Linked DNA regions of Homo sapiens: regions 1, 2 and 3 are each linked to region 4. The links come from fine-mapping of genetic effects on gene expression. A gene starts in region 4. Each other region holds a variant in brackets. All regions are shown on one strand. Distances are from middle to middle.

What was found. PIP is the estimated chance that this variant, and not a neighbour inherited with it, causes the effect. A credible set is the group of variants that fine-mapping cannot tell apart.
Region 1: its variant is the best candidate, but not a certain one, in a credible set for the expression of C5orf63 in whole blood (TOPMed, PIP 0.83).
Region 2: its variant is the best candidate, but not a certain one, in a credible set for the expression of C5orf63 in esophagus muscle (GTEx, PIP 0.85).
Region 3: its variant is the best candidate, but not a certain one, in a credible set for the expression of C5orf63 in hypothalamus (GTEx, PIP 0.51).

Annotation. Positions count from the first base shown.
Region 1 is chr5:126,847,496-126,855,604 of GRCh38, reverse strand. No RefSeq gene overlaps it. Among named protein-coding and RNA genes, the nearest start is that of LMNB1, 74 kb to the right of the region's middle. RefSeq lists an enhancer at 7,442-8,109. The variant C/T (reference allele first, on the strand shown) is at 4,340.
Region 2 is chr5:126,951,991-126,960,099 of GRCh38, reverse strand. All of the region lies in intron 1 of MARCHF3 (membrane associated ring-CH-type finger 3), which reads left to right. Among named protein-coding and RNA genes, the nearest start is that of MARCHF3, 75 kb to the left of the region's middle. The variant C/T (reference allele first, on the strand shown) is at 3,498.
Region 3 is chr5:126,974,614-126,982,722 of GRCh38, reverse strand. All of the region lies in intron 1 of MARCHF3 (membrane associated ring-CH-type finger 3), which reads left to right. Among named protein-coding and RNA genes, the nearest start is that of MARCHF3, 52 kb to the left of the region's middle. The variant A/G (reference allele first, on the strand shown) is at 4,948.
Region 4 is chr5:127,068,819-127,076,927 of GRCh38, reverse strand. It overlaps C5orf63 (chromosome 5 open reading frame 63), which reads left to right and starts at 3,426. Exons shown (of 5, transcript NM_001164478.2): 1 at 3,426-3,477; 2 at 5,243-5,344. RefSeq lists an enhancer at 1-144 and a silencer at 3,350-3,569.

The DNA of each region.
Region 1 (8,109 bases), 220 kb after region 4:
CAGAGTAGTACAGTAAGGCAATGGGCTGACTGTGCAGTAATTGTAGATAGGGGAAGGGAAGCAGAGGTCAGAGAAGAGGCCTCAGGCTCAGTGCCAAGAATGATGCTTTTGGTCACGGACAAAAGGGCTTCAGAGCATCCCGTTAAAAAAGAAAACCCACATCCTGCTGAGATTGGAGGCGGCCGATAAGGCTGTCGCCCATCTGACAGTGCTACAGTGATGGAGGCATCCCACCACACTCTAGAAACAAAAAGAAGACAAATGTCAACAGATGCCTCGATTCTGCTATCATCAAGTGTGCGTGTGCACATGGCTTGGTTTGAGGCAGGGGATGCGGGTTCCATGATGAGAGGGATGATTCTCATTAGCTTGTTCTCGATGCTGTCTTTGTGCGCCACAAGGTTAATACAGGAAATATGAAAGGCGCTCAGACTGCCAGGAGCAGCTGCTCGTGGGTAGGTCAGCCCTGAGCAAACCTTCCTTAGGTCCAGACCATGACTGTCCTGCCAATTGTTCATAGTGAGAGGTGACAGCGTGCTGGCAGCCCTCGCTCGCTCTTGGCGCCTCCTCGACCTCCGCGCCCACTCTGGCCGCGCTTGAGGAGCCCTTCAGCCTGCCGCTGCACTGTGGGAGCTCCACTCTGGGCTGGCCGAGGCTGGAGCTGGCTCCCTCTGCTTGTGGGGAGGTGTGGAGGGAGAGGCGCCGGTGGGAACCAGGGTTGGGCGCACACTTGCAGGCCAGCGTGAGTTCCGGGTGGGCGTGGGCTCGGCAGGCCCCCGCACTCCGAGCAGCCGGCCTGCGCCCCCAGCCCGGGGGCAGTGAGGGGCTTAGCACCTGGGCCAGCAGCTGCAGAGGGGGGCGCCAGGTCCCCCAGCACAGCCGGCCTGCCCGTGCCATGCTCAAATTCTCGACGGGCCTCCACTGCCACCCAGCCGGGCAGGGCTGGGGACCTGTAAGCAGCCATGCCCTACCCCCCGCCCCCCCCCCCCCCCCCGGCCCCTGCACTAGGCTCCCGCTCAGCCTGAGCCTCCCGGACGGGTGCCGCCCCCTGGTAGGAGGCACCAGGTCCCATCAACCACCCAAGGCCTGAGGAGTGCAGGCGCACGGTGTGGTACTGGCGGGCAGCTCCCCCAGCAGCCCTGGCACCGCAACCACTAGGCAAAGCCAGCTGGGCTCCTGAGTCAGGTGGGGACTTGGAGATCTTTTATGTCTAGCTAGAGGATTGTAAATGCACCAATCAGCACTCTGTGTCTCGCTAAAGGTTTGTAAATGCACCAATCAGTGCTCTGTGTCTAGCTAATCTAGTGGGGACTTGGAGAACTTTTGTGTCTGGCTCAGGGATTGTAAGCACACCAATCAGCACCCCGTCAAAACAGACCAATCAGCTCTCTGTAAAACAGACCAAACAGCTCTCTGTAAAATGGACCAATCAGCAGGATGTGGGTGGGGCCATATAAGGGAATAAAAGCAGGCTGCCCGAACCAGTAGTGGCAATCAGGTGAGGTCCTCTTTCCTGCCGCGGAGGTTTTTTTTCTTTTGCTCTTTGTAATAAATCTCGCTGCTGCTCGCTTTTTGGGTCTGTACTGCCTTTATGAGCTGTAACACCCAACACGAAGATCTGCAGCTTCACTTCTGAGGCCAGCCAGACCACGAACCCACCGGGAGGAATGAACAACTCCAAGAGCGCAGCCTTAAGAGCTATAACCATTTGCCGCGAAAGTCTGCAGCTTCAGTCCGGAAGCCAGCGAGACCACGAACCCACCAGAAAGAAGAAACTCTGAACACGTCCGAACATCAGAAGGAACAAACTCCAGACACACCATCTTTAAGAACTGTAACACTCACCGCGAGGGTCCGTGGCTTCATTCTTGAAGGCAGTGAGACCAAGAACCCACCAATTTCCGACACAATAGCACCCAAGCATCAACTTCACTCTGGTGGCTGGCGGGGGCCACTAGGAGGGCACATCCTCTGTAATCCATCCCAACGTGGGACATGGAGGGTGGGCTGTGTGTCACAGGGCGGAGCAACGATCTCTGCCACCTGAACGACGAAACAGGAGAAAAGCTTGTGAAACAAAGCCCTCCATGGCCCAGGTGAAGAAAAACATCTAGACAGATGAGCAAAATGGGTTTCCTCTCCTAGCGGAAAACTTACCATTTTAAAAGGTTATTCTGACCCAGAAAATAACGCTCTTGCCCTCCCCCCACCCCCAACACCCCACACACATACATCATGCATGAATACACACTGAAAAACTATGGCACAGACACACAGTCACACGCAGCATTAGAAGAATCCTGGGCCAGGTCAACTCTGTTGTCAGTATCAGCAAGTCTCAAAGTGAGCCCTCTGAAACCCCTGTGATCCCCTCTCCTCCCTCTCCCACACTCGTGATGACAGCTCCTTGTGGCTAAGTTCAGCACCAAGTAAGGAAGAAGTGCCTGCAACAAGCTTGCTTGAGGAGGAAAAACAGTAAGGCGGCAGGTGTCGGAAGCAAGTCACCCCCGGGAAAAGTCAGGGAGAAGTGGCCACATGCCCCTCTGGGGTCAGGATTAGAGCTCAGAAAATGACTCATTTGTCTCTACAACCCCGCAGTAGCGCTTCCAAACATGAGAGGGGGGTCACAAGCCCAGACAGGGTGAATTTGTTATTAAACAAACCAATGGAGGGCAGGCAGCACATATGTTCACGTTTCCTGCCTCTCCCATCTCTTTTTGGAACTGAATGAGCCCCTTCAAACAGCAGGCTTTTGGAATCCTGTCAGTTTCCTCGTTTACCACAGAGACAATATCTGCGCACTAAATAGTTTCCCAACTATAACCCTCCAAAATCAGGCTGGGCGCGGTGGCTCACGCCTGTCATCCCAGCACTTTGGGAGGCGGAAGCAGGTGGATCACTTCAGGTCAGAAGTTCAAGACCAGCCTGGCCAACATGGTGAAACCCCGTCTCTACTGAAAATACAAAAACTAGCCAGGTGTGGTGGCACACACCTGTAATCCCGGGATTACAGGAGGCTGAGGCAGGAGAATCTCTTGAGCCTAGGAGGTGAAGATTGCAGTGAGCTGAGATCGTGCCACAGCACTACAGCCTGGGCAAGAGTGAGACTCTGTCTCAAACAAAACAAAACAAAAAAGTCATTTGCATCAAGTCAGCCACTTCCTGCAGAGTCTGTTGAAGAGCACACACAGAAAAACAAATTGCCTAAGAGCAAGGTACCCTGGAGTACTCCGTTAAGGGGCTGATCTCATTACCGTAGTTTAGGATTCAGGTGCCAAGGATGACAAAATGAACTGCCTTGCTTTATTTCATAATTCAGTGTTTCCCAGCCTTCCACTATTCATTTTGGGAAAGAGTTGTCAAAAACCCATAGTTATTTCTCCCAGCAACCTGGGAGGGGAAGGAAGGAAAGTCACTCAGGCTTAGTCACATGTCTTTCTGGCGTGCCAGAGGCTTTGTCCATTGGGGATACTTCAATCCTCTTTCCCAGCTGAGGCCTTAAACTATTTGTTTAAATGAAAATCTGAAATAAAACTACAGCTGTTATCAAGAACAGGCAGGAGATCCTGTCATCTTGGTTCCATGGATCAAGCAGAGGGCCAGTGTTCAGTGTTTGTGAAGAGCACCGGCGTGATTTTCCAGCAGCGGAGGACAGCCCCAATGCAGTGTGCAGCCCTGTGAGCTGGGGAAGGCAGACAGAGGTTGGCCAACTGGCAGGAGCCAGAAGATTTTCTTCATGTTCGGGTCTCAATGGAAAACTCAGAAGTGACTGCCAAACACGTTCCGGGAATCTTCTCCATTTCCCATTTGAGCGCTGAGCACACGGGGCACCTCCACAGTCACAGTCTTCTTCGGTTTTAAACAACAGGGGCAAAGGTTCCAATGTGACCAACCTGTCACAAGTACTGACAGTATTCACAAATGCCTTCTTCCTGCCAGAAATGCAGAGAGACCCAACCAGGCACCCGGCACCTCCACACGGTGGAGACAAGCCACGTGACTGAGTGTTTAAAGCAAAGAGAAGGGAAATCACAGCATTGAAAAATGATTTGGAACAAACAAGCACGATGGAGGCCACTTCGGGGGAAAGCTGACATTTGTCTAAAATGGAAAAATCCAAACGCACTTTCCAAAGCATCAAGCTGGGAATAGTCATTGTCCCTCATATAATATTCAATTTGCAACAGGAAAAAAGCAGATTTTGCCACTTATTTAAGTGTTGCTTTTACTTGTCCAAACCGGGTAGGTATAGGGTGGAAGAGGATGTGAGTTATGATTCTCCCAGGTGGGGATCTCTCTTTGAAAGCACTAGGCCCTCAAACTCCAAATTAACCAGGCA[C/T]TCCCACTTTCTATCCCAAATCCCATCAGAGCAGGGAGAACCAAGTCTCAGGGAACCTCAGGGGAACTCTGAATTCCATGCAATTGGCTGAGCGACATTCTCGGCACACATAGCCTGCCGTTTCCATGAAAGCACTCTGGACTGACCTGGACCCTTGAGTTCGGGTGCCTGTGAGTACCCAGGACCACTCAGGAACACCAGGGAAACAGACTGAGGCTGCAGGACTGTGGCCCCTCTTTCTCCACTGTTCTGTCTGCAATCAAGTTCTGGCTGGAGTCTAGACGGATTCTTCCAAGGTTAGAGCAAAATGCCCTATCAGGATCACCAGCTGTATCCCTTAGCTAATGCTCTGAGAGATCATGGCCAGTTTTTAATAAGCTCAAATCGTCTTAACGAGAAGTCAAAGAATTTGAACCTCCCCCTTAACGTCCCCAACCTTGGAGCTGTTGTCATGACTGCGGAGGCGAGAACTTCACCTTTGAAACTCAGCCTCCTACCAGACAATTCTTTCCTAATGACCATTTCCCATAAAAGACCAGTGCTCCTGAAGCGTGCCGTGTGGTGCCTGCCTTTTATAACAGCAGTTGACCACAGTTGTTGTTCTACACATCGGTGTGAATATTTGATTGATGCCCCCCACCCCCACCCCAACCAGGGTCAGGCAGAAATTTCTTTTCGCTCACCATTGTATTGCCAGTGCACAGCATGCAACTTAGTAAGTGATTAATCAATGTTTGTTGTGGGCCAGGCACAGTGGCTCATGCCTGTAGTCCCAGCACTTTGGGAGGCCAAGGTGGGCAGATCACTTGAAGTCAGGAGTTAGAGACCAGCCTGGCCAATATGGTGAAACCCCATCTCTACTAGAAATACAAAAATTAGCTGGGAATGGTGGCGCACACCTGTAATCCCAGCTACTTGGGAGGCTGAGACAGGAGAATTGCTTGAACTTGGAAGGCAGAGGCTGTATTGCACTCTAGCCTGGGCAACAGTGAGACTCCGTCTCTCAAAAAAAAAAAAAAAGTTTGTTTAATTAATATTAATATTTATTAATAAAATGAGTAAAATGTGGTGTTTCCAGTGTTCTCAATGGCCTTCCTTGTTTAACCACTCAGTTGACTTAACCCAGGAGAAATGTTAATTCTGACTGGCACTATTTTTGCTAATAGACTTACTTAAGCCAACAATAATTAACAGCCCTGCCATTTTATAACAGGACAGCCTCACCTTACTTCCCATCTTAATTCCCGTGATCAAAAAATTTTAAGTTAATTAGTTTTAAATTCCTATTTCTTTACAACCTACTATATTGGTATGACCATCTTACATGGCCTCATTTATTCCACTATCAACTCTTTGTAACAGGATCTTTAGTTCCAATTTACAGATAAGGAAACTGAGATGCAGGAATGTTAGCTTTTTTAGACTTACATCACTAAGTGACAGCAACTTAGTGTCATTAACTACTTCTCTTATCAAGGGTTTTCCATTCACAGACCTAGTTCAAAGGCAAAAACAATGTGCTGTTTATTCTTTCTACGTGAAGTCTATCTATGGAGAAGACCCATCTATGTGGGAAAGTATAAATTTGGGACATAACCCATGACTATAATTGAATTCTCTATCATTAAAAAATCATTTATTTTATTTCCTTTCCAATCAAAGCTGAATCACCAGTTCCAATAATTCCTGTTATTCACAGCATCCCCACCCTACCCCCATCAGGATAACTTGGATGTACTTGCATACCCTCTGGGTCATTTTCAACACTTCCTAGATACAGTAACACATTGCATCACTGGGGTCCAAACTGCTTTCACCTACTTGCTGGGTGGTGTGTTAGCTTACCTAAAGGTGACTATCCCCCCAAAGGAGAGTTTTAAATCAGAACACTTAACTACCTCCCTGATGTCAGGGAAAGTGCATCCTGAAACAGCCAGTTTAGGAAAGGTCATTCTACCAGGGCTGTGGCTTTCTGCCTTATCTGAGAGCTTACGATGCGATAGTGGGAGGAAGGCAGATTGAGCAAGAGCTGGAGCTGTTCCTGCTCCTAAGTCCATCTTCATACGCTGAGAGGTGCAAATCAGCTAATATACAAGAAAGCATTTTCTAAACCTCACCATGAAAACAATGTTTATTACATTTGCCATTAATTTGAAGAACATTAGAAACAACAGAGATTTTAAATAGGGATTTGGGGATTATCCGACAGTTGGAATTGTTCCCATTCATTTCAACAATTAATAGCACCGTTTTCATTAGTAAACTGGCTATGTTATTTTTTTTTTTGACAGCTCCCTGGGATAGCAGAATAGGCATAGTCATCAAGGATAATAGAACTGTGATCACACTGAGTTCCTCAAGAAAAGAACTGGCTGTCTCATCTTGGTATTCTTGATGCCTTGCTCAGTAGCGCCTGGCAAAACTAAATCTCCCAGTGAATGGTTGGTGAAGGAATGAACAAGTGAATAAATGACAACCTGTGGGCCTGTTATCCCATCTACAAAACAAGGACAATACTAATAATGCAGTATTGTGAGCTGTAAGGTAATGTTTGATGTGACAACTCAAGCATGAGTGAACATTCAATAAATGTTTGCCCCCTTTCCTTTCACCCTGCTTCCTCTTGATGGGTCTTATGCTGCTTTTCTGCCTTCCTATGTGAGAGTGAAAGTGTCCCGTGTGTCAGAGACCAACACGTGCTGGTGTGTACTCCCCACATGTCAGAGCAGCACTGCGTTTCCAGACCCTGCCCCTGTCGGTTTCTCCCAGTGGGGTCCCCAGTGTTCCCCAGCTGTAAGGTCCGGTAAGGGCCCAGCTTCAGGTCCCCTCTGGGATTTCTGGTATAAGGTCTGCCTGAGTGACCCAAAGCATTCACCTCTAGCACCCACGCCCTTCTTTCTCCAGGGAAGGACCCCTCCCAGAAGGATTGTAATAATACGCATTACTTTTCCTGGTAATGAAATGCAACATGTCTCGGGATAGAACCCAGGCTCACTATTTCTTTTATGACATAATATGAATGTTTGCAGATCTTGATTTTTTTTTTCCGAGTTCAAATTTCATAACAATTTTCCTCTTAGCAAGACAAAAATTTTTTAAAGAGAAATGATCTGATTCAGTAGCTGGGAAAACAGTTCATAGGAAAATTCTGTGAAAACCCTATGATCCCAGAAAGAGCTTGGGTTGAGTCCCTTCCTGGCATCTGCTGGTTGGAAGAGGCAGCGTAACAAGGGAGTGAAAGCTGGCAGTGAAGAGGAAGGCTGGGTCATGACCCCAGTCCTAGGAAGAGAATGAACTAACTGCCAGGGTCACAGTCACACTGCTCGCTAAAGGGCAGTGTGAGAGGGAGGCTCCTTGGCCTAAATGTGGACAATGGAGAGAAAATCAGAAGAGAAAAACAAGTGATCTGGGACTGTTTGTGAAACTAGATAAAAAAACAGGTCATCTGAAGATCACTCTCAACCACTGCATTAGGAAGCCAGAGAAACACATTCAGCACAGTCAGACATTTGTGTCCCTCTGGTCACAGTGGACACTTTTAACTAGTACTTGTGGCTAAACTTAAGTCATGGGACTCAGGACTAGAAGGGGCTGTGGAAACATCCGCGTGTATTCAACAGACGAAACCAGACAATTTGAGAATCATTATCCAGACTGAGTCAGGAAACACTGAAGAAAACCTCGCACTACCAAAGGGACCTCCACCCTATCACAATTACACAGTGAGGTCTGCCCCCAAAGACAGATCCATGCAGAAAAGCAGCAGATGC
Region 2 (8,109 bases), 120 kb after region 4:
TCAAACCGTTGTATGGACCGTTGGAAAGATAATTAGCAGGGAATATCACACAGCTTGACTTCATAGCATTCTAAAACTCTAACTCAAACCCCTCCTGCTGCAATTTATGCCCATTTCTTCTTGCGGTTTTCTCAGAGGAGCTCTTAGAGCATAACTGAGTGCCTTCGGTGGAACTATAACTAACTAATAACCTAGGAGACAAAGGTACATTGGTAATTAGTAGAGGAAGTGCTGCTGGTCGGAATACCAAGCAATGCTTACTGTCTATTAGTTACTGAGTTGTTTTCCATGGAGGTATAGTAATTACGGCTTTAAGAACATTCAAAAATTATTGGCCGTGATCATTTAAGGTGTGATTATTTTCTAAATAAACTCTTTTTTAGAACAGTTTTGTAGTGACAGGAAAAAATTGCTAAGATATTACAGGGATTTTCCCTATTCCTTGCACCTTCTTTCCCCTATTATTAATGTCTTACATTAGTGTGGTATATTTGTCAGAACAAAGGACCAAGATTGATGCATTATTATGATATTAGCTAAAGTCCATACATCATTCATATTTACTTAGATTTTACCTAACATTCTTTTTGTGTTTCAGGATCCCATCCAGGAGCCTATGATACATTTAGTTTTCATTGCCTCCTTGGACTCCTCTTGGCTGGGATAGTTTCTCAGACTTTCTTTGTTTTTGATGACCTAGATAGTTTTGAGAAATGCTGGTCAGCTATTTTGTAAAAAGTCCCTTTTTTGGGACTGTTTGGGATTTGTTTGCTGTTTTTCACATAAATAGACTGGGATTATGGATTTAAGGGAGGAAGCCCATAGAAGTAAAGGGCTATTTTTCATCACATCATATCAAGGAAACATACTACCAACATGCCCTATCACTGTTGATGTTGACCTTGATCACCTGGCTGAGGTAGCGTTTGTCAGGTTTCTTCATAGTAAAATTATTCCTTCCCCCTTTCCATACTATAGCCTTTGGAAGAGATGGCCTATACTCAAGGAATAGGGAGTTACGCTCCACTTCCTTATGGTCAGTGTTGGTCAGTGTCCACATAAATTATTTGGATTTCATCTGCACAAGAGATTTGTCTTTTCTCCCCCTTCCCCTTTATTTATTCAATCATTTATTTAAAGCAGTGTGGACTAATGGGTATTCATTTTATACTTTGGCAATAATATAATACTTCACTTATTTCGTTACTTAGATTGTTCCACTGTTGGTCATTAGTGGTAGCTCATTCACTTGGATCCTATGTTGCTTTAAAATAGCCCCATCATTGTGGAGTTAGGTTTGTTTTAATTGCACATTACACTTAAAAATCAGTCAAATGGCCGTTGTCAACTTGTCTCCTCTGTGTGCCAGGAATCAATCAATTTCTATTCAAGTAAACAAGTGGCATTTTTAAAAAAAAAGTCACATTTGATTATTAACTAGAAGAATATTCAGTACCCTTGATCTGTCTTCTATATACTTCCCAGTCCTGACACCCTTTTTGGATTCAAAGATTAATTAATTTAAAGGCAGTGATGAGCAGATTAGATCAGAAGTAACTAGGGACCTAGAATGGAATATGAAGAATTAGATCATGAAAAAGAAAAAATACAGAATACAAAAGCAGTGGGCTTTTAGAAGTTTAAGAAAATTGAACTCTGTAAAGAAAAAGCTTTAATTCAAGAAAAAGTAAGCAAGCTAGACCATTTATTAAACTAATATACATCTTAATATAATCACTTGTCTTGGCCAGAGAAACAATATAGAGGACGGTTAATGGTAAACTGGAAGCACCTTATTAAAATCAAGTAACCTTATTAAAATGTAAAACAAGACAAAGATATTCCCTGTCATCATGATCATTCAGTATTATTCTGGAAGCTACTGCCCATCTAAGAAACAGAAAGCAGAGAAAAGGAGGAGAAAGATAGCCATGATTTGTATGTTATATTTCTGTTTACCTAGAAACTTAAAAGAATCAACACAAAGTAATAAATAAAAATTTGATAATAAAAATCTGTATACAAAATAAAACTAAAATCAATAGCTTTCCCGTGTATGGGCAATAAGTAGTTATAACATGTAATGGGAAATGTCCCATTTACAAGAGTATAAAATATTCAGTAATAAATCTATATTTGGAAAACTAAAATACTGAGCAAAATAAAAGAAAATTTGAATAAATACTATGTTCCTAGATGAGAAAACTAAATATTTGCAAGACACAATTCTTTCTATATTATTGTTCAGCTTAAATACATTTTTAACAAGGTAACAATTTTAGATGATGATTTTAAAAATATCAGGAAGGATAAACAACAGAAATGATGAGTAAAATCTGAGCACAGTAATGTTGGGAATCTTCCTCTACCAGTTATTAAAAATGAATTATAAGTCTATAATAATTTTTAAATGTGATGTTTTACAAAAATAGATTAATGAAGCAGAATCTAGGAACAGATTCAAGTATGTATAAGAATTTACTACAGATAAAGATGACATATAAATAAAGAAGTTATCAAAAATAAGATTGATCCAATTGAGAAACCATTGGGAGAAAATGAAAGTTACTTTTTAACATCATGCAATACACCAAAATAAATTACAAATGGATTGAAGGTTTTATGAAATCATAAAGCTATAGAAAAATCTAGGATGAGTATTTATCTGCACTTGGAAGTACAGGAATGATGGAAGAGACTGCAGAAAAAATGATTGATAGGTTTAACTTCTAAAGCTTATGTGTCAAATAGCCTGTAAACAAAATTAGAAGACAAATAACTGAATGTTTTTAAAGTTAAACATATGTGACAAAAGGTTACTATCTTTAATATATACATGGAATTCTTAAGCACCACTAATAAAAAGGCAAAAAATATAACTCAATAGGAAAGTAAGGAAAAGACATGAATAGACAAATAAAAAAGACTAAATACTATGGCCAAGAAACGTGATAAAGTTTTAAAGGAATATTTATTACTTAATGTATATTTACTAAAATGTTTATGTCAAAAAAAACTCTAATAAAAGAATACCATTCTTAGCCGGGCACAGTGGCACCATGGCATGTGCCCATAGTCCCAGCTACTCAGGAGGCTGAGGTGGGAGGATCACCTGAAGCCAGCAGGTCCAGGCCAACCTGGGCAACATAGTGAGACCCCATATTTTAAAAAGAAAGAAACACCGTTCTTAACCTGCCAATTCAAAGAGATGTTTTAAATGATAAAACCTAGTCATGACAAAGATTTGGTGAAATGGGCAGTTTCGTTCAACTACTGATGAAAGTAAAATGTTCACAGAAAATGGAAACTTTTAGTGAGGAAGGCATTAGTGGAAAGTGGATTGGGATGCAGGTTAAGATCTGAGTTCAAGCTTTCTGGGTTTTTTTTTGTTATTGTTTGTTTTTTTGTTTTTGTTGTTGTTTTTTTGGTTTTTTTTTTTTTTTTTTTTTTTTTTGGAGACAGAGCCTCACTCTGTTGCCCAGGCTGGAGTACAGTGG[C/T]GCAATCTTGGCTCACTGCAACTTCCACCTCCCAGGTTCAAGTGATTCCCCTGCCTCAGCCTCCCAAGTAGCTGGGATTACAGGTGCCCGCCACCACACCTGGCTAATTTTGTTTTTTTGTATTTTTAGTAGAGACAGAGTTTCACTGTATTTTCAGGCTGGTCTCGAACTCCTGGGCTCAAGCTATTTGCATTCCTTGGCCTCCCAAAGTGCTGAGATTACAGGCGTGAGCCACCATGCCTGGACCTAGTTCAAGCTTTCTAATTGTCTTGCTGTGTAAACCTGAATGGGAAATATAAGATCTCTGCATCTTTGTTTCTTCATTTATAAACAAAGAGGCTTGGTTTAAAAATATCTTCAGGGTAACTGAAGACAAAAGAAATCGTTAGGTTGCGGTACAGATGGACAATTTGAGGACTAGAAGAAAACTGTTTAAAAACAGGTTCTGACAAAAATCTGAGACCTATTCATTTTAACAGTGTAGAAACTCCGAAAACAATCTCCAAAATGTATGTGGGAATTTGGCATAGAGTAGACAAGGCATTAAAAATAAGTGGGAAAAGAAAGGATTATTTAATAAGTGATTTAGTTCTCTTCATGAAAAAGAAAGGTAGATTAATGTCTCATCCCATACAAATGGATAATTTTAAATGTATTAAGGGCCTGAGTGAAAAATAAAACTTTAAAATTATTAGAAAGAAATGCAGGCAAATATCTTTATGACTGTGGGGAAGAGATTATTTCTCAGTCGGTACACAAAAAAGGACAATTCATAAAGGAAAGATTACACTAAGAAGTAAAACTATTTTATGCAAAAGCCTCTATGAGTAAAGCTAAAAGACAAACTCTGAACTGGAAAAATATTTTTTCAACACATAAAGCAGAAAAAAACGTTTCAGACTATATAGTCAGAGAATCCTTACAAATCAGTATAAAAAAGACGGACAACTTACTACAGAAATGGGTTGCAAAGGATACCCTCAGGCAATACACAGAGGAGCGGATTTAAAGAACCAATAAACATAAGAGATGCTGACCTTACTAACAATTAGGAGAAATGCTGGCTGAAACAAAAACTACCCTTTCTCGCCCTTCATAATGGCAAAAATAAAGAAACATGACTGTCCAAATATTGGGCCGGATGAACGAAACTGGGCATGTAGTGTGGTACACCACTTTGGAAAGCAAGTTGGCAATACCTGCTAAAATTTGAAATGTGGTCCATAACCAAGCAGTTTTACCACAACAAATATTTCCCAAAGAAGCACTTGCAACAGAAGCCCTGTACAAGGATGTTCACTGAAGCATTTTTTTTGTCATGATGAGACCTAATGTCTCTTAATGGAGAGATGAAAATAAATTAGAGTATGTTCATATTTTGTTTCCTTCATTGCTGTGCTCCCAGCCACCGGAACATTTCTTGGAACATTGCTGATGCACATAAATATTTGTTGAATGAATGAATATGGTGGAACCCACATAACAGTTGAAAATGAATAAATTAGATCCATATGTATCAACATGGATAGATTTCAGAAACAGCGTTGGGCGAACAAAGTGACTTTAGAGTATGGATGTTATGGTACAATTTTAATATGCATAAAATGATACTATATGCTGTTTATAGATGCCTATGTGTAGTAAAAATATTAAAATGTACTGAAAAACACAAAAATTATAATGCCAGTTGCCTCTGGGAAGGGAAAGGAAGGCAGGATTTCTCTAGGAAAGAGAAAGAGGAAAGGAGAAGAAGGAGGGTAGGCATTGGGAAACAGGAGACTTAAGTTTACCTCTGTGGCCTTATTTCTTTTAATAAGAAAATTCATCTGAAGTACAAATGACAAAATGTAAACTTTTTTTAAAATTCTGAGTTGTAAATGCATGAGTGCGCTCTATTTATTAAACTTAAAAAAAAAAAAAAAAAGAAACTGGGGCCAGGCATGGTGGGTCACGCCTGTAATCCCAGCAATTCAGGAGGCTGAAGTGGGAGAATCACTTGAGTGCAGAAGTTTGAGACCAGCCTGGGCAACATAGGGAGACCCCTCTCTACAAAAAAATTTAAAAATTAGCTGGGCATGGTGGCACATACCTGCAGTCCTACCTATCCAGGAAGCTGAGGCAGAGGGATTGCTTGAATGCAGGAGTTGGAGGCTGCAGTGACCCATGGCCATGCCGCTGCACTCCAGTCTCAAAGACAGAACGAGACCCTGTCTCAAAAAAAAAAAAATTGTATCCATAAAATTAGAAGAGGTTAGGCCGGGCACGGTGGCTCACGCCTGTAATCTCAGCACTTTGGGAGGCCGAGGCGGGCGGATCACGAGGTCAGGAGATCAAGACCATCCTGGCTAACACGGTGAAACCTCGTCTCTACTGAAAATACAAAAAAAAAAAAAAAAAAAAAAATTAGCCGGGCGTGTTGGCAGGCGCCTGTAGTCCCAGCTACTCGGGAGGGTGAGGCAGGAGAATGGCGTGAAGCCAGGAGGCGGAGCTTGCAGTGAGCGGAGATTGCGCCTGGGCGACAGGGTGAGACTCCGTCTCAAAAAAATAAAAATAGAAATAAAAATAAAAATTAGAAGAGGTTACTACATAAATGGGAGTAAGTAATAAAAGAGTGGAAATTAAAAATATGATGGATTATATTAAAAATTCATTTACTAGGTTTAAAATAAAGTCAAGTAAATCTCCTAGACCATTGAACGAAAAGATAAAAAGGTAGAATATACAAGAGAAGATTTAATGGGCATAGACATCCAATCCTAGAAGTCCAACATCTGATTAATGAGAGCGTCAGAAAGAGCAGACAAAGGGGGAGGAACAAGCAATTAAAGAGATAATAGAACATTTCCCAGAGTGGAGGAAAGGCAAGAGCCTTCAGATTAAAAGGCAACTCCTTATGAAATTTTGAACACAAAAGATAAAGATGTGATGCTAATAGTATTCAGAGGGAGAAAAAGTTACTTACAAAGAAGTAAGAATCAGAGTGGCATTTTACTTCCATATTGTATAGCAATATGACATTAAAAGAATTACTTCAAATTTCTGAGGGAAATTTTTTGAACCTAGAACTTACGTACCATTGAGCCATTCATCAATATAAAAGCAGAATAAAGATTTTTGGAAATCCTTTGGAATCAAAGATTGTGATTTTTTTTTTGGAGAATGTTCTCTAACAAAGAAAACAGGGAACCCAAAAGAGAGAAAGAATGTTATTCAAGCAAATATTCATCCTAATCTCACAGAATACAATTTTTAAAAATCCTAGGGTAGTGGCAGGTTTAGAAAACAGTATGTGTGAATTACAACATGAAGTTTGAAAGCAATAGGAAGCATGTCTTCAAGAAGAACATGGATTTTCTGCCATGATTTGATTAAACAGTTCAATGAAATTAAAGTGAAATAATATGCTGTTTTTGTCAACAAGAAAAAAAGGCAATTAGAACTGCCTGGAAAAAACAAAAACCTTCATAAGAAATCTGTAGTGCAACTATAAAACAAATGAAAATGTTTTGATTTTGAGCAGCTTGTGGAATATACTAAAATAAAAACAGACTTGACCTTGAGGTTTGGAACATTTTCCCTCAAGCAACACCATTAAGAGACTTTGCATCTCCTTCTCTCAGGGTACAATTACACTACTTGGTTCTGAAGCAAATAATATCTATAGAATCATAATATTGAAATGTTCTTTGTTTTCATTTTCTGGAATTTATTTCTAGAGAATCTGTGGAAGACAATTAAGATTATAGGCAATTCGCGTTATAAACCTTAAGAATGCAAAATTAATTATATGGCTAAGAGGATTTGGGTAATAGAAGAAGGAGGAACAATGGAGGGAAGTGAAATAGGGCCAGTTTCCCCAACTGAAGTAATTGGGGGTGGTTAAGATACTGTCCCAAGTTGATGGATTAAGAAATAAACGTTTAGGCATATTATTTAAAGTTATAAAGATAGCAAAGGCCTTAAAAGTAAAAAAATAAAAATAAAAATAACAAAACGTGGGGAAAGGAGGGAACAATGGTAAAAAGCTAAGTTTCTATTAATTTTAAATTTCGTAAAGGACAGGAAGTTAATAGATACTACTTAAAATTGATAAATCAAGAGGAGATAAAAGCACCACCAGAAGAACTAAAATCAAGAATTGTTACAAGAGGTTACCAGGACTAGGTATAGTGTATAAAATGGAAATGTTAAGCCTCCATTTATACCACCCTTTAATGAGTGAATTTGCATTATTATGAGAATATACTACCTTTATAAATTTTGAAAGAGAGATTTTTAAAATGTAAGGTTTCCTCTGTCTCTTGCTCATTCTCCCTCCCCTCCCCCTAATAAAAAGAGTCTAGCTAGAAAAAATGCAAGTTTGCTGTCGAAGCTGGTTGTTTTGTAACTTGTGTATCCTTCTTACAGGGTAGTGGGCCTAGATTACAGTTGTACCAAAACTCAAAACCCTACTGAGGGCTGGGCATGATGGCTCACATCTGTAGTCCCAGCACTTTGGGAGGCCAAGGTGATCAGATCACCTGTGGTCAGGAGTTCGAGACCAGCCTGATCAACATGGTGAAACCCTGTCTCTACTAAAAATACAAAAATTAGCTGGGCGTGGTGGTGGGCG
Region 3 (8,109 bases), 94 kb after region 4:
GTGAAAATCTAGAGTAGAGAGTTGATGTGCCCCAGATGTTACAGCTAGCCATTAGTAGACCAAGGTTCAAACCCAGGTCTTCTGATGTGAAAGCCCTTGCTTGTCCTACTACCCCTTGCTACTGTGGCCATCTAGTAGATCCTAGGACTGTGCATTAGGTCATCTGGGACTCTGAAAATAATTAAGTCAGACTCTCTGCAGATGGGGCCCAGACTGCCTTGGGAAGAGCTGCAAAGCAGGTCAGCTTCCCCTCCAGTAGTGTTGGGACAGCCTCCCTCACTGTCAGTCATCCCGGGGCCCACTGTGGGTCTAAGCAGAATCACCAGCTCCCTTGCTGTTCCTTCCCCATCCCTGCCATCAAGACAGAGCCATTTGCTGCTGTCCATCCATGTTATGGCTCAAGGGTTCAGACATGGTATAGGGAAGATGGGAGCAGGGAAAGACATGAACTGCTGTGCTGTGTGACAAGGCCAGGGGTGTCACTGAGGATGCAACAGGAAGCAGGCAGGCAGGTGAGAGAAGCTGGGGAGGCGGGAGATAGAGAGTTATTCTAGCACAGCAGTGAATGAATTCAGTTTGAATGAAGCACAGAAGTAAATGTTTGGACAGCGGAACCAGGTTTCATGATCTTTGAGTTGTCCTCATAACATGTTGGAACTAGGTATTGAAAAGTCTGAGGTAATCTGAAGCTTAGAAAGGCACAATCTATCAAGTTAACTTAAAGGAAAGGAAGGTGTTAACAAAATTAGAAAGTGCTGTTTTAGAAACAGCCCTAGATATTTTCCAAAAAAGCCTTGGGAATATTCCAGTATAGGAATTCTAAATACCATAGTAGTCAAGTAATGTGTTCTTCTGGTAAAATTAAAAAGAGCATGCCTGGCAGCATATGAAGAACTAAATTTCACCCTGAACATAATATTTGATATTATCCTACTTCGGTACTCTGTTACTGTTGGCTTAGGTATTTGATGTAATATTTTCCTTTGTTGTTTAAGAAAAAAGGTTGGACAATTCTCAATTTGCTGGTATAGTGAGAGGGAAATTTTGTGCATGCACAAGCATAAATCTCTCTTCAAACTAAACATGTATGTAACACCTTCACTTTGAAGAGAACACTGTGTTTAGTATTTCCCAAAGCCTTGCAAAGTACATTAATATCCTACAACCATTTCTCTAATGTATTTAAAGAAAGTAAGACTCAAGGAAGTTATCTCCAAACACACTTACATCTGGAGTAGGAACAAATTCTTAAAGGTCTCAGAAGACTCGTCTTACTAAGTTAGGCTTTTCATGGCTTCCTCCATCAAAGCCTCTGAGGTTGTGTGGTCCAAAAAGCAGGCCAAGAGCCCAAGATGCTCATGGATTGGATTAGTTGATCCCTGAATGGATGAAAGTTTACTCGATGTTTTGCACAGCCTTGCTTGAGTAAAAGGGGAGGTAGAGTCCCCCTACTAGGAGAGGTTCCATTATTCTGAGAAGCTTTTCTTCCTCACTGGACAGTGACTATCCAGAGATGCCTAGGAAGCAGTCATTCATTGTTTATTGCTGGAGGCCAACTTGCTGCCCATCAGAAGTATATGTAATGTAAGAGGGAAAAGGCAGGCTGTAGATTTTTCTGCAAGTTCAACAGAGTGCTGCACACTAACAATCAGTTTGAAGAAAGCTGAAGTCGTGTGTCAGTGCTCACCAGGCTGATTCTTTGTGCAGCACAAAGATTGAATGGTGGCTTAAGGAAGGTATACACATACAACTGCTCTTGACTTTCAGTCTGGGGCCATGGATGGAATATTGGAAATCCACAGATAGTCTAAAAACAATTTTAACATCTCTGTCCACCACTTCCCTCACTAAACCTTGTTATAGAGATGCTAACAAACAAAAACTTAAAATACTAATCTTACCTCTCCTTCATGCCTATAGTATGCCACACTGGGCAGAAGATGGTTCTGGATGTTCCCCAGATGAAACTAAGTTTGCAAACTGGTGGCCCACAGGCCCACCTAACCATAGATGTGTTTTATTTGGCCTGTGCTGGGGTTTTAAAAAATATTTGAGGCCAGGCGTGGTGGCTCACACCTGTAATCCCAGCACTTTGGGAGGCTGGGGCGGGCAGATCATGAGGTCAGGAGATTGAGACGATCCTGGCCAATATGGTGAAACCCTGTCTCTACTAAAATACAAAAAATTAGCCGAGCCTGGTGGTGCGCACCTGTAGTCCCAGCTATTCAGGAGGCTGAGGCAGGGGAATCACTTGAACCCGGGAGGCAGAGATTGCAGTGAGCCAAGATTGCGCCACTGCACTCCAGCCTGGCAACAGAGTGAGACTCCATCTCAAAAAAAAAAAAAAGGAATGAATCATCAACATCTCAAACTCAAGAGATTCTACATAAAATCTGTGTTTCTGGCTTCTCTTAAAATTCTAAAGATCTAGTCACCCTGGGCCAAGGAGTGGCTATTCCCTTCATAATGGATTAGGGCTCCCACATGGCTGCCCCAGTTCACATTCACACCCAGCCCACTTGTCACTTCCAGGATCTACTAGTCTCTGCAGGCATTTGAGTTTGGCATCCCCAACAGAGAAGGTGCGCAGAAGAGGAAAGATTTTGCTTTCCTTATAGATGTTCGTGGTGACATCTCTGTGTCAGTAAGAAGTTTGATCCACTAATGAGCAAGATTGTTATACACAAGAGTTCTGGAATCAGAGACAGGTGAAATAGGCTCAATTAGTATACAGGATTTCACTTTCATTTCTTTTTTTTTTTTTTTTTTTTTTTGAGATGGAGTTTGGCTCTTGTTGCCCAGGCTGGAGTGCAATGGTGCAATCTCGGCTCACCTCAACCTCCACCTCCCGGGTTCAAGCGGTTCTCCTGCCTCAGCCTCCCGAGTAGCTGGGATTACAGGCATGCACCACCAAACCTGACTAATTTTGTATTTTTAGTAGAGACAGGGTTTCTCCATGTTGGTCAGGCTGGTCTCAAACTCCTGATCTCAGGTGATCTGCCCGCCTCAGCCTCTCAGAGTGCTGGGATTACAGGCGTGAGCCACTGCGCCTGGCCTCACTTTCATTTCTAATAAGGAATAAAGACCATTTCAAAATTAGAAAACTCTAAGGAAAAACACACTTAAATGGAGGACAGGTAACCTGAGTTCCTGATGCAGCTGCCCTGCCCCCATGCTGATACCTAGTGTCTTTACCTACATAATGGAAAGTGTTAACCATCATTCAGCATTCATTCCCTTAACAAGATTTATATAGAGTGGTTGACATCGAGGGTTTACAGTCTTCCCAAAATGGATCTGCATTTAAGACTTCGTTTTCCTCACCTATCAAATAAGGAATGAAATCACAAACACCTCAGTGTGTGACATACTCTGAATACCCAGTTATTGTGAGCTCTTATTATTTGTTAAGTACCAGATGTTTGCCAAGCTTTGTGCTAGACCTTAGAAATACAAAAACACAGAAACATGTGGTCCATGTCCTAAAGAGCCGCAGTCTGGTTGAGGAAGTAAATTCTGGGCTAACAAGTAGAGTCAGCAACCTAAACAAAAGCCCCTCAGAATGACTGTACTGTTGAAACATAAATAGGACTGATAAAGCCCCAGGTTATTACAACATCATATTAAATTAAGGAAAGTCCGTGTGCAACACCTACCTTGAGAAATAAACATGTATATACATATCTAAATATGATAGAGGTAACAAAAGTTTTCAATAATAGGATTTTTCTTAGGGGAGTTCCACATCAGACTTCTAAATCCAAGGTTCTTGACATCTGGAGTGGAGTCTTCCCATTGATAGTTCAGCCAGAGCCCTTGCTCCAGAAAATGTATGTACACAATAGTTTGCATAACATTCCAGGGATCTGAGAGCCCCAGAAGCCCATCCATGAGGCCTGCTCCATGTAGTTCCTCACTGGGCTGGTCACACAGTACATAAAAGCAGTGGCTCCAAAAGAGGTGCTCAGTTACAGAAGAGAGAGAGCCGCTCATAGAAACAGTCAGGGCAGTTCTGTGTGAGAGCAAAAAGCCGAGTTGCATAGAGGTCCAGTGGGCAGTGAGGGGAATGTTGAATGAAGAAAACGTCTTTTTTCTTTTCTTAGATAATGCTGATATGCCTGTAACAACTAATGTAGTCAGAACGAGTACTTCATATATCTGTCACATGTTTAATTGTGGACACTCTGACATCTTATCTTCTCTCCTGTGATCCTTTCACCTTTTTCATAAATCTCTGTTATCTAGGTATGAAAAGAAACCTTAGTATCTACTAAGCCAAAACATCCTTTCACATAGGGTTGATCTGGCTTTTTGTTCTTTTTCCCCCACTCTTTCCCTATTCTTCAACATTCCATTCCCAATATGTCCAGAACTAATTCTGCATGGGACCTAATTATCGGTTGGTGACCCGAATGGGGCTGGTCACTCTGGGCAGTCTCTCTCTCCTTGGCCCTTTCTGGCCTTTAGGTCACATGTAGTACTTTATCAGTTCCCTCCAAAATAAATCCAGCTGCAAAAGTATTGGAAAATAAGGTAGGTTTTACTGAGGGTTTTGGGGGTAGAGTGAAAAGAAAACTCACCACGTGAAGACAAAACATCACAAGATTCCCAACATACAATACTCAACTGCCAAAGCCTTTCTCTTGGGGGCCAGCCCCTCATCTTTCCTCGGCTCTACCTGCCTTCCCCACACTCTTGCTCTGTACTTGTGCTAATTCAGAGAATATAGCTCCCTCAGCTTCTCCAATTTTGCTTTCTCATATCTGTTAGTTACTTAATACTGCCTTGAATTATGAGAAAGCCTCTATGCTAAGGATGACAATTTTTGTTTGTACCCCTAATCACAAATGTCTTTGTGTTTTACTTAATACATTGAAGGCATCCTTGATGTTAGGACATGTATATTAATCTTGCATTTCGGAATGGCCGAATAGTGTTGCCTTGTAT[A/G]CATGCAACATGCTGTGTTTAGCCATTCCTGTACACTTACCTTATTTCTTTTTCTTTTTTCTATTATAAACAAGCTGCAATCAAACATATATTGCACACTTATATGAGTATGACTGTAGGATAAATTTCTGGAATTGATATTTCTGTGTCATGAATATATGCATTGTAATATTTAGTAGTTATTGCTCTCTAGAAATTTATCTTCCAAGCAACGGTGTGAAAGAGATCTGTTTCAGTTTTCCATAAAACCCCATTTTTATGTTTGTTTACCTTATTTTATGTTTGCCGATTCCTTGATTTAGGAAGGGCTTAAGGTGGCTGGCAAGGAAATATACATTAGAGGTAGATGGGTTGGGGGTAGAAGTGAAAAATGAAAGGTAAGAATATAAAATGGACCAGTGATTAAGATTATTATAAAAATTCATTCAGGTTTATTCTATGCCCTAGGTGACCTTCAGGTTTGGTGCTAAGCTTTCCAGCAGCCAAGGCAAAGAGGGGAGTCAATTATATAAGCCACTACTAAAACAAAGCTGTGCCTTGGGGTCCTTATAAAAATGAAAAAGGACTTTGTACAGGGCAACAGTAACTTCAGCAGCATGACTTCATGTGATCCCCTCAGCACCTCTGTATCTGCTATTTACCTCGGACCCAAAACATGTTGCCCTAGAGCAGAGCTCTGCCTTCAGTCATGTACGTGCTGATTATGTTGGGTGGACAGCAGTCTGGCCAAAACTGATAAAACCTGTGCCTCCAAATGTGGCCTGATAGCAGGGCATTAAGAGCAGGCATCACCTCTCATATACATAGACCTTCCTTTCTCTTCAAAGCTCCTAGGAATTGTCTTGGAGGATGGGACCAAGAAGCAAACCCAGGATCGGTGGATGTAAACCAGATCAGGAAAGCATCACTGTGGGGGCATTTCCAGGCAGGATGTGTGGGCTGCCTGCCACGTGAGCAGGTGGAGGGCCCAATGGGGCTCTCCCTGCTGCCAGGATCGGGGCGAGGATTCCCAGAGGGAGAGAGAGCCAGGTGCCATGTGTGCAACTGCAGATGCCAGAGTGGGCTCCTGAAGGAAATTGTGTCATTTCAGCTCCTGACCTCAGAAACAGGAGATAGGAGAAAGCCATGGTGACCTCAGCTGGGTGGGGAGACAACTAATCAGCCACCCCAGGTCTGAGGTGGCCCCAAGGCAGGTCAAGGATGTGAAGAGGTCTAGATAGATAGAAAGGAAATACAGAGGCTCAGCTTTTGGAAACCACACAGGGGCTGAGTGCCCCAGTAGAGGGTCAGATAGTTCTGCAAGGAAGCCAGGGTAGCCCAAAGCAGAGGCAATGAACCTGGAGACCAAGTAGCAGAGGAGCTGAAAGAGAGTTTGACTTGTACCTAGATTTGAAACCAGAGTAAGCTAACAAGAAGACAGAATGATTCCTAGGTTCAGGGCTGGCAAAATGCAAAGTGAAATTGATCGAGTCATGTAAGATTTTGTGTCCAAACTCCACTGGGCTGTGGATAATTTTACCCTCAAGGTCCTCCACACTGTAGTATGGACACCCAGGTGTGTCCCATAGAGGACATAACAAAAATGTATCTTAACTGGGAAAAAAAGATTAACAAAAAGAATGAAGATGTGCCTCAGCTGCATGAATATAGAAGGAGAAAGATCCCTCTATGTCATTCCCTGGGTGATAGCAGGAGAACATTATCCTAAGTAGGAAAAAAAGACAGTGGAAACCTGGTTGAAGGAGCTTTTTTGCACATCACCCTGGGGAGCCACAAAAGAGAGACAGGAACAAAAGAACAGCTGCAAAGGGAGTGAAAGAAACCCAAAGAGGCATTGGCACAGGCCTACTGGGAATATGATATGGCAAAGAGAGAAAATGAGGTCTGTTTTCTAGTTAGAGAAGATTGATCTATTCAAAGGACTTTAAATTTTGTTGATTCACTTTGGGTGCATCCATGTGAAGGTTTGAGTTTTGAATCATCATGATTTTTAGCCAGTAAAAGTGTTCTGGGTTTTAGCTTCACCCACATGGACCTCAACTCGCTATTTAGAAGTCTACTGCCCTTCAGGTGGGTTGCCAACAGACTCTGCCTTTGCTGTACCTGGGAGAATGGCTTCCTCATCACCACATTCTGCATCCTTCCAAGATGGCAGTGAAGATCTTCCCAGGGCATCTGGCATTAGCAGAATGCGGCTGATGAGGAAATATGACCCCAGTTTAGGCCGTTTTACCAGAATATTACACAAATTACAAAATAACTTGATAGCTAGAAGAGAGGATTTTGAATGTTTTTACTACAAAGAAATGATTAATGTTTGAGGTGGTGGATTTGTTAATTACCCTGATTTGATCCTTGTACAATGTATATCAAACATCTCATTGTACACCAGAAATATGTATAATTTTGTGTCAATTAAAAAGAGAAGAAAACTTAATAAAAAAATTTTTTTCAACTATATATGTGAACACATGAAAATGTAATAGTAAAATTTCATTGTTACAATATTATATCCCACTTCAGCCAGGCCCAGTGGCTCACACCTGTAATCCCAGCACTTTGGGAGGCCAAGGCAGGCAGATCACAAGGTCAAGAGATTGAGACCATCCTGGCCAACATGGTGAAACCCTGTCTCTACTAAAAATACAAAAATTAGCTGGGTGTGGTGGCATGCGCCTATAGTCCCAGCTACTCGGGAGGCTGAGGCAGGAGAATCACTTGAACCTGGGAGGCGGAGGTTGCAGTGAGCTGAGATTGCACCACTGCACTCCAGTGTGGTGACAGAGCGAGACTCCATCTCAATAAATAAATAAATTTTGAAAAAAAGAATGTTATATCCCACTTTAAATATAGATTTCAGAATGAATGGTAGCCAGATTACTTCAGCTGTCACATGTAACTTACATAGCTTCTCATTAAGACTTTTAAGTCACAGATAAAATTAATTTATTGGAATAAAGTAATGCTCAAAGCATGACTGAACATGTAAAAACTTAATAAGAAGCAGAGTTTAGGTTACAGAAAGAGATGTACTTTCTTATTGTCTGAGTAAACACAGTCTCCGTAACTTGTGTGTGGTGATCTGAAATCTTGGTCAAGATTCCCTGAAATCCACTTTTAAATGAGTTCATCTGACAAACAGTGCTAGAAAGGCCCTACCTT
Region 4 (8,109 bases):
CATTTCCTGCAGAGTTTGCAGACCTGAGGATGGGCGACTCATGAGATAAATATGCTCACTATAAAGTCCAGAAATACACCAGGAAAGAAAACCTACCAAGTTTCTGAATACCTCCACCAAAACAATCGCATCACCTAATTGTGGCAATTACTGAGACTGTCCCTCCTAGTCAAAGTTCAAATTGCACGTTCTTTGAGTGGCAACACACAGCCAAATTACTGTAAAACAGAGCTGGCATGACAGTCACTACTTGCCAAGACATACATTATTTTTCTAAGGCATTCTGAAGGGAACATATTGACATCAAAGCCCACTTCTTTATTCCTGCCAGAGGCAAAGCTAAGAGGACAGGAGTGAAGATGCCTCCCTCCACACCCACACAGGCCACCTTTCAGAGGCCTTAAGAGGGAAGCCTGGCTCCAGGTCATCTCTGGAAGAATAGGTCATGTGTCCTCTAAAGTACCTTTGGAGTTATGTCAGGAGTTACAGATCAGACTGTGACAGCAGGCTTTCTCTACACCAGGCTTCTGCCTCAGAGATGACCATTGAAAAACTCAACCCAGTTGAGTTCTGAACATTCTAGCACACAGATATCCCTGCATCAGTCCTATCCAGATTGGTAGCGCATAGCCTAGAATTGCAGTCCAGACCTAGAGGAGGACATGCAAGTCAAATGCCTAATGACAAGCATGTTATTTTGTTTGTTTGTTCATTTTTTTGTTTTGTTTTGTTTTGGAGACGTAGTTTCGCTCTTGTTGCCCAGGATGGAGTCTCAGCTCACTGCAACCTCCGCTTCCCGGGTTCAAGCAATTCTCCAGCCTCAACCTCCTGAATAGCTGGGACTACAGGTGCCCACTACCACACCCAGCTAATTTTTGTATTTTTAGTAGAGAAAGGGTTTCACCACATTGGCCAGGATGGTCTCGAACTCCTGACCTCAGGTAATCCGCCCACCTCGGCCTCCCAAATGGTGGGATTACAGGTGTGAGCCATCATGCCCGGCGACAAGCATGTTTTGAATGAACAAAATTGTACAAGATCCAGAACTGTCTTAAGGCCTTCATATTCTTAAAACACTCACATCATTTGAAACATATTAAAAGGTATATACATTTCACACTTAATAATTTTTCTATAAAAGGATTTTTAAAATTTTGCTTGTGAAATTATGTGGCTAAAAGTTAAAATATAATTTCTCTACACTCATCACATATACTCAGGAACTCTCACTTGGTGAGAGCATCTCATCTAAAAATTGTTTTCCAATGTAATGAAGTTGTTATAAATGCTAAACCCATCCATTAATGAAGCTGACACAGTGTTCAATTTTGTGATCATTTAATAAATGTTCATTAATTTTGCTATGAGTGTCCTTTTTTTTCTTTTTTGGTTTTGTAGACATTTTTCCTGGCCAGACTCCAGATATTTTCCCAAGCAGAGCTCCCTTCCCCAGCACTGTAGGCCCTGGACCTAGAGGCTAAACTGGTCCTCTGAGCTCATGGCAGTCAGCCAGGCACTCCCAAAGAGGGTATCAACCATAGTGAGTTCTCAGGGATTCCTAGACATTCGACAGGACTCCCTCTAACCAAAACAATAATGTGGAGGCTCCAGGTCTTCCGCTATCACTTACAAACCCAAGAAATTCTTACTGATTAAACTCAAATTCTGAAAATTTATGAACTTTTGGCTCCTTAGAGAAATTTACTCATAACCAGTGCTAAAAGCCTTCATTGTTGGCCTTGGTTGAATCCATTCTTTTCCTTCAGTGGGTGAAATCAGGTTTCATAAGTCCAAGTGATTTTATAAACCTTTGTTTTCCAACAATAAATAAGATTTGGAAGCTGATCTGGAGTTACATTTCTAGTAAGCTTTTCTGTCACTCCACAATATCTAAGATACTCATGCCCCACCAAGGTGTTTATAACTAGATCCCAGATTCCTTCTTTAAAGGTATCCTATCAGCAACTGTTAGGTGGACTGTGCTTTATCAATTGACTTTTTTTTTTCCAGAAAAACTAAGTCTTATCAGAGTGCATCAACTCAAAAATAACTATAGGTAGTCTGTTGACAGTCACAAAATTCCCTCTTTAGCCTATCAGAAAATGCTGAAGTGACAAAGAACTTGTAAATTCTACTATCTTAATGTGGCCTCTAGCGACATCACATAATCAGTGTGGTTTGTTTAAAGAATTCATTCCTGACCTTGGTTTGCTTTGTATCTTTTTTAAAACCACTGAGTACACATTGAATTTATAGTGGTAAGCTTAAGGCGTCAGACAGCATGAGATGGAATTCCAAATCTACCGTTTTGTAACTGTGAGAACTTGAGCAAGTTATTAAACCTCCATTACTTCATCTGTAAAATGGTACTAGTAATACTTAATTGCATTGTTCTCAGGATTAAACAGACTAATGAGTATAAAGCTTTTGGTGAGCAATCAATAAATGTTAGCTTTGAGTATTACTATAATTATTATCCATCATTTTCTCATTATTTACTGTACCACCATTCAAGCCACCACACCTAGAACCTGGAATGCTCAGTAGCTTCCTCACCTCCCTGCTTGTTCTACTCTTGCCTATCCTAAACCCTTCCCATCTACTTCCCAAAGCTAAGGGGTCCTTTCAGAAGGGAAAAGCAATCAGTTCAATCCCCTTCCCACATAAAACAGAAATGCCCCCCGGCTACCCTTAGCACAAACCTGAAAGGCCCTGCATGGCCAGACTCTCGCTTACCCTCTCTAGCCTGTTTCCACCTCTCTTCCCCATTCCCTCTAAGTCTCAGCCATACTCGTCAGTCTTCCGCATACAACCCATACTGCACATCCTCCACCAGACCCTTCCCCCAGCCTGCAGAGCTCTGTCCCCAACCCACGCCCTTCAGATCCCAGCCCCAAAGCTACCTCTTCAACGAGATCCCACTCAGGTCTTTTCTCATATTCCTTCCCTGCAAAGCACTTAGCTGAATAAACCCATGGCCTATTTAATAAGGGATAATTTCCTAATATCTGCTTTCTCACACGATTTTCAGTTTGCGGGAGGGTACGGCTGCCAGTTTTGCTCATCGCATTCCCCATAACCTAGTTCAGCCAAGACCTAGTGGAGGAGGCAGTAAATATTAAATTAACGAAAGAATGGATGCATGCAGAGCGGTTAAAATGGCTCGGACTCCGCAGCCTCAAAAAGTTGGCTCCCGCACCTGAGGCCTCTTATTAAATGGTTCCCAAACATGCGGGGTCACTTTTCCGTATTTTGTTTTTTAGTTTGGCCTTGGTTTGTGTGTCACTCTTCACGAGTAAAGGTTCAGGCGCGGCCACCCTTGAGAGCGTAGACGGGACACCACCTGAGATAGAACGCCCAGCGGCAGTGCTGCCGGCGTGGGGCGGAAGTGCGGGGCCTGGGGCCGGCGCCTGGTGGGTGCGGGCGGAAGTGCCCGGCGCAGGGCGGAAGCAGAGGCGTTGGCGGCGTGAGGCTCAGGTGGGTTCCCTTAGTCCCGCGCCGAGGGTGAGCGCTCGCGGGTCTCCGCCTCTGAGCTGACGCGCAGGCTGGCGGGGGTTCGCTGTGCCGCGTGCTGCCCATTTGGATAGTCGTTATACGGAATTTAATTAAACCGGGAGCCATAAATCCATGAACTACTTGGGGGAGATTATAAACGCGTGTGTGTGTGTCTGTGATAGCGCTCTGGGAAGTAAATAAATGACGGGCGGGAAAAGGAAGCTTTTTTTTTTTTTAAGAGAAAGCAGAAAACATCTCGAGAAAGCAGAAAACATCTCAACTTCATACTCCTCCAGTGATTCGCCGATGCCCCGTCCCGGGTTTAATTGAATTCTATGAAGTGGTAGTGTAATCACACTTGGGAGCCCGCTGAGCTGACTGCCTTTTTAAATAAATATTTTTGAGCAGCCATGTTGACCTTTAATTGGGGTGAAAAGGTTGAAAGGTGCAGCAGGGAACATTGTGAGTGCCGGGGCTCTCTGGATGAGCTGTCTGGATCTCCTCTCAGCCTTATTGGGCAAAAGCAGCCCTCTGGGTACTGAACAATGAGAGAATAAATCAGAAACTGTACATTCTCAACAGATATTCACTTCTGACAAATAGCAGCTCATACAGTTTTTTAATAAGTCCAAGGGTAGAAAAGTCCCCACTAAAATGTCATTGTGAGTTAGGCTTGTGACTGTTTCTAAGGCTGTCTTTCACAGGGAATGTTTTGCTTGGGTGATCTTTATTCTTGTTTATTAATAAATAGTGTATATGTGGTACTTTATATTTTAGTGCCCTTAAAAAAAAAATCCATAGTATGGCCTTAGCTTGACCCCAAGATTCTCAATTCCTCAAGGACAGAGATGGTGTCTAAGATCTGTTATATCCCAATACTTTCTAGCGCATTTCCCAGAATTAGTATACATTGTCTTGTTTAAGCAGCCACTAGAGCTATGCCTTGGTGCACAATGCTGAACAAGTTGAGGTGTCTATTAGAGGTCGCAGTCTTCTCATTTGGTCATATTCTGAGGACTAGCTTATAAAAATGCATGTGAAGCTCTCTACCAATATTTGGAGCTGTATACATTGGGGTGCATTATAGGTAATTAGAAAGATTTAAAACACGGGGAAAAAAGATACACCCTGGAAATATTGGATAATTATGATAATACTGGGGCAAAGCAGAACTAATCATGGTTCTGTGTGAAATATCGTAGCCCAATAACCTGCGTCCTGCTCTGCTGAGGAATTGCCTGGAACCAGAAAGACCCTGTTGTGAAAATTAAGATTGGTGGGGCTGGTGCTTTAAACAGGCAGGATCCTCAGATTGTCTTTCTTCCCTCCTGCTCTGGCAGCAGTAGCCACATGCCAAGGAAGGATCAATATTTTTTTGTCTCCTTCATCAGAGGAATATGTGGCTGTGTGGTTTTATTTAGATGGACTGTTGGCAGGTAAGTAATAGAAATGAGGATTTTTCCAACTTGGGAGTTGATTGGACTGTGTTTCTATTTTGTTCCAGATGCCTGGCTCTAAAGTACTCAGAGGCACTATGAGAAATCCCTTTAAAATAGGTTATTTTTTATTATTAAAGTTTTTTTATTTCATAACTTGTATATACTCTAGCTGGCTGATGTATTCAGTTACTCTAATGCTAGGCCTTGGGGTTTCAAACATAGCAGGACCTTGAGGTGATCTGGTACAAGTAGCGAGGTGTTTTTATGTTCCTTATTTAAATCTAATTTTTGCTACTGCTTTATTCAAGGACTGTACATCAGAGGAAGCCAAAAGCCAGCTGGAATACTTCCTGAATACAGTTTTAATCTTGTTTGCAATTATTTCGAAGGGGAGAAATCATCTGGATCAGGTATGTGTAGCTACACAGCAGGGACTAGGTGAGCTTCCTCTATCCTTCCCCTAGTATTGCATAACAAATTCTAGGGACAAAATCATTTGGGGAAGAATATGCAAATGAAAAGTTTTGGCTAAGTTTATCTTAGACATGATTCCACATCCCTAACTTCCCATCCCAGTACAGCCACGGAGAACAGGAAACATGAAAATGTTACTCTCTTTTTATTCCAATCCTTACCAAAGTTAAAGTTCCTAGATATGGAGGCAAACTGAAAGAACCTACCTACTATTTTTAGAAAGTATCCATCTCCAAGGATTTCAGACCATTTCACCAGTAATATCTAGTAACAGCCTTTTTACTGTTGTAGCCTTCATCACTGTGGTATTGTGTTATTTGTTTGTGAGTCTTTCTCCTGCTCAAGGTGTGAGTTTCTTAAGGGCAGTGACAATATCTTAATCACTTTTATATTTCTAATACATGGCACAGCACCTGGCACATTGCAAATGCTCAGTACAAGCTATAGAAATGAAAAGATAGTGTCCCTGAAGGGAGGTTGGATCTATAAAAAGTATAAAACATTGAGAATGTAACAAGATACTGAAAAGAATATAAAGCAGTCACCTCCTTTCAGGTTGTTACTAGAGACAGAAGTAATGCTTTAATAAACAGCTTGGAGCAGGGAAGAGTGTATTTGGGAATACATTAGATGCTCCTCAAACTGCCTTCCAAGGAGATCTGGCCTGGTCAGTTGTGGGTCCTTTGTTGTTTAGAATATGCAAGCTAAAAGCTTCCACCAGTCCTGTCTCCACACTTTCTCCAGGCCTGCCATGCAACGCCTCACCCAAACACCTGTTTAGCAAATATTTGAAGAGTATCTGTTTGAAAGTGTGCCAAATTATTAGCTTATGTAGGGCACCAGTATCTTGGTTTGGTCTTGCCTTAAGGATAGAGGACCTCTGTAGAGTCACTATCTTAAGTCTGGTCACTATTTTAAGTCTAGGTTGCCCAAATAATATTGAAGGAAATCCACACTTGTCTTTTCTACTTTACTAACAACATTTCAAAGGAGTTCAAAGTTGACAGCTTTTTGTGTTGTAATAGGACAGTGGTGGTATATGCTGCTGCCTTCTGTTGCCAATGGGATTGCAGCAGAAATCGCATTGTTACAACTGGAAACAAATGAATTTCCTCTCATTGTTCCAGTGCTTTTTCATGTTAATCATGAAATAATGGGGAAATGATTTTTAGTCAGGAGGGAAGGACATGACGTTGAATTATTTGATTTTTTTAAAACTCTTTGTTTCTTAAAACACATAGTCCTTCCATCCAGTGAAGAAAAATGATTCTATTATTTAATAGAAAACTCAGTAAATTCAGCCATTTCTCCAGGTTCAAAAATGAAATGGATGTGAATCTTTTTAGATTTAGAGAACAGAGCCTAATTCTTATGGTAAAAGAATTCTACTGTCTGAAACTGAGACTTTCCTCATTCTCTCCATCCTTAAATTAAGCCTTATACAAAATGAAGTGTCTGTTAATTGGTATACTCTGAGGATTAATATGAAAAGTGTTTTGCGATTTTTTGGGAAGAAAGAGGATTGAACTTGGAGATGCCTTCTAGTTCTGAAATTCTGTGTTGATCTCATTATATATAAAAATATGCCATTGTTCCAGGAGAAAATACAGAGAAATGAACTAAAAAATATAGTATGAAAGACTTTAAGCATTAGTTTCCTTATACATAAAGCAAGGGGAATCTCCAAAGTCACTTCCAGTTCCAAAACATTAAAAAAATTCTATCAATGATAGCTATTAAAAAACAGAATAGGACTCAAAAGATTGTAGAATCCCACATAACTGAGGGATGCCACAGCCTAATGTCAAGCAAGAGTGGATGGCTCCCAACATTCAGATTGAAGACTGTATTTCTACAGGCCTGGGTCTTACTGTTATCACAAGTCCAGGGAAATGCTGGATTTAGCAACTCAATGTCCAAAGTCACTTGCTACAAAATGGCAAGCAATGAATGAAACATCTTTTAGGTTTTGTGGGGGCACAAAGATAACTTTATCTCTTTGACAAGATAAATTGAAAGTGGGTGGAATTTTAGGGACAAAGAGAAGACATTGCCTGGGTGGATGGTTTTTGAATTGCAAACAGTTGTTTTTGGAAATGGGATTATGTGCTTTTTAAATAGCAGGGAAACTTGCATTACTAGCTGGGTACAATAAGACTAAGATGTTTAATGAAATTGCCTTCTTTCTAGGTCAGTATTAAGTATAAGAGATATCGTCAAAGGGAATGGGTCATGTTGGTTAAGAAGGATAATGTGGAAAGGAGCCTGCCTAATTCCTTATATACTTTTTTCCCATCCCTTGAACTAGAATGATTTTGCCCTCATCTTAATGCTATCTTTATGGAATGAAGGAATTTTCAAATTGGTTTTTAAACTCTATTAAGGCCTCATGTATGATATAACCCAACCACATTATTCAGGTTTTCTTGGCTTTCAGGAACAGCTTTGCAGCCATTATGTCATAATTGAACCGAGCATTGTTGCACACTCTGAATTTGGAATATGCTGCTCTGGCTCCAGGCCAGTTGCTGAGTCAGTATCTTTGGAGTTGAGGATGGAGGGGAGGGGTGTAGTGTGTGCAAACCCCATTGTGTTAACAGGAATTAGTCCAGAATTCCCTTTGGACTCTTGGGAACTAGAGGGGGTATATGGTGAGCGTACATTACTGTTCTTGATTGGCATCATTATTTTATTTTCTTAG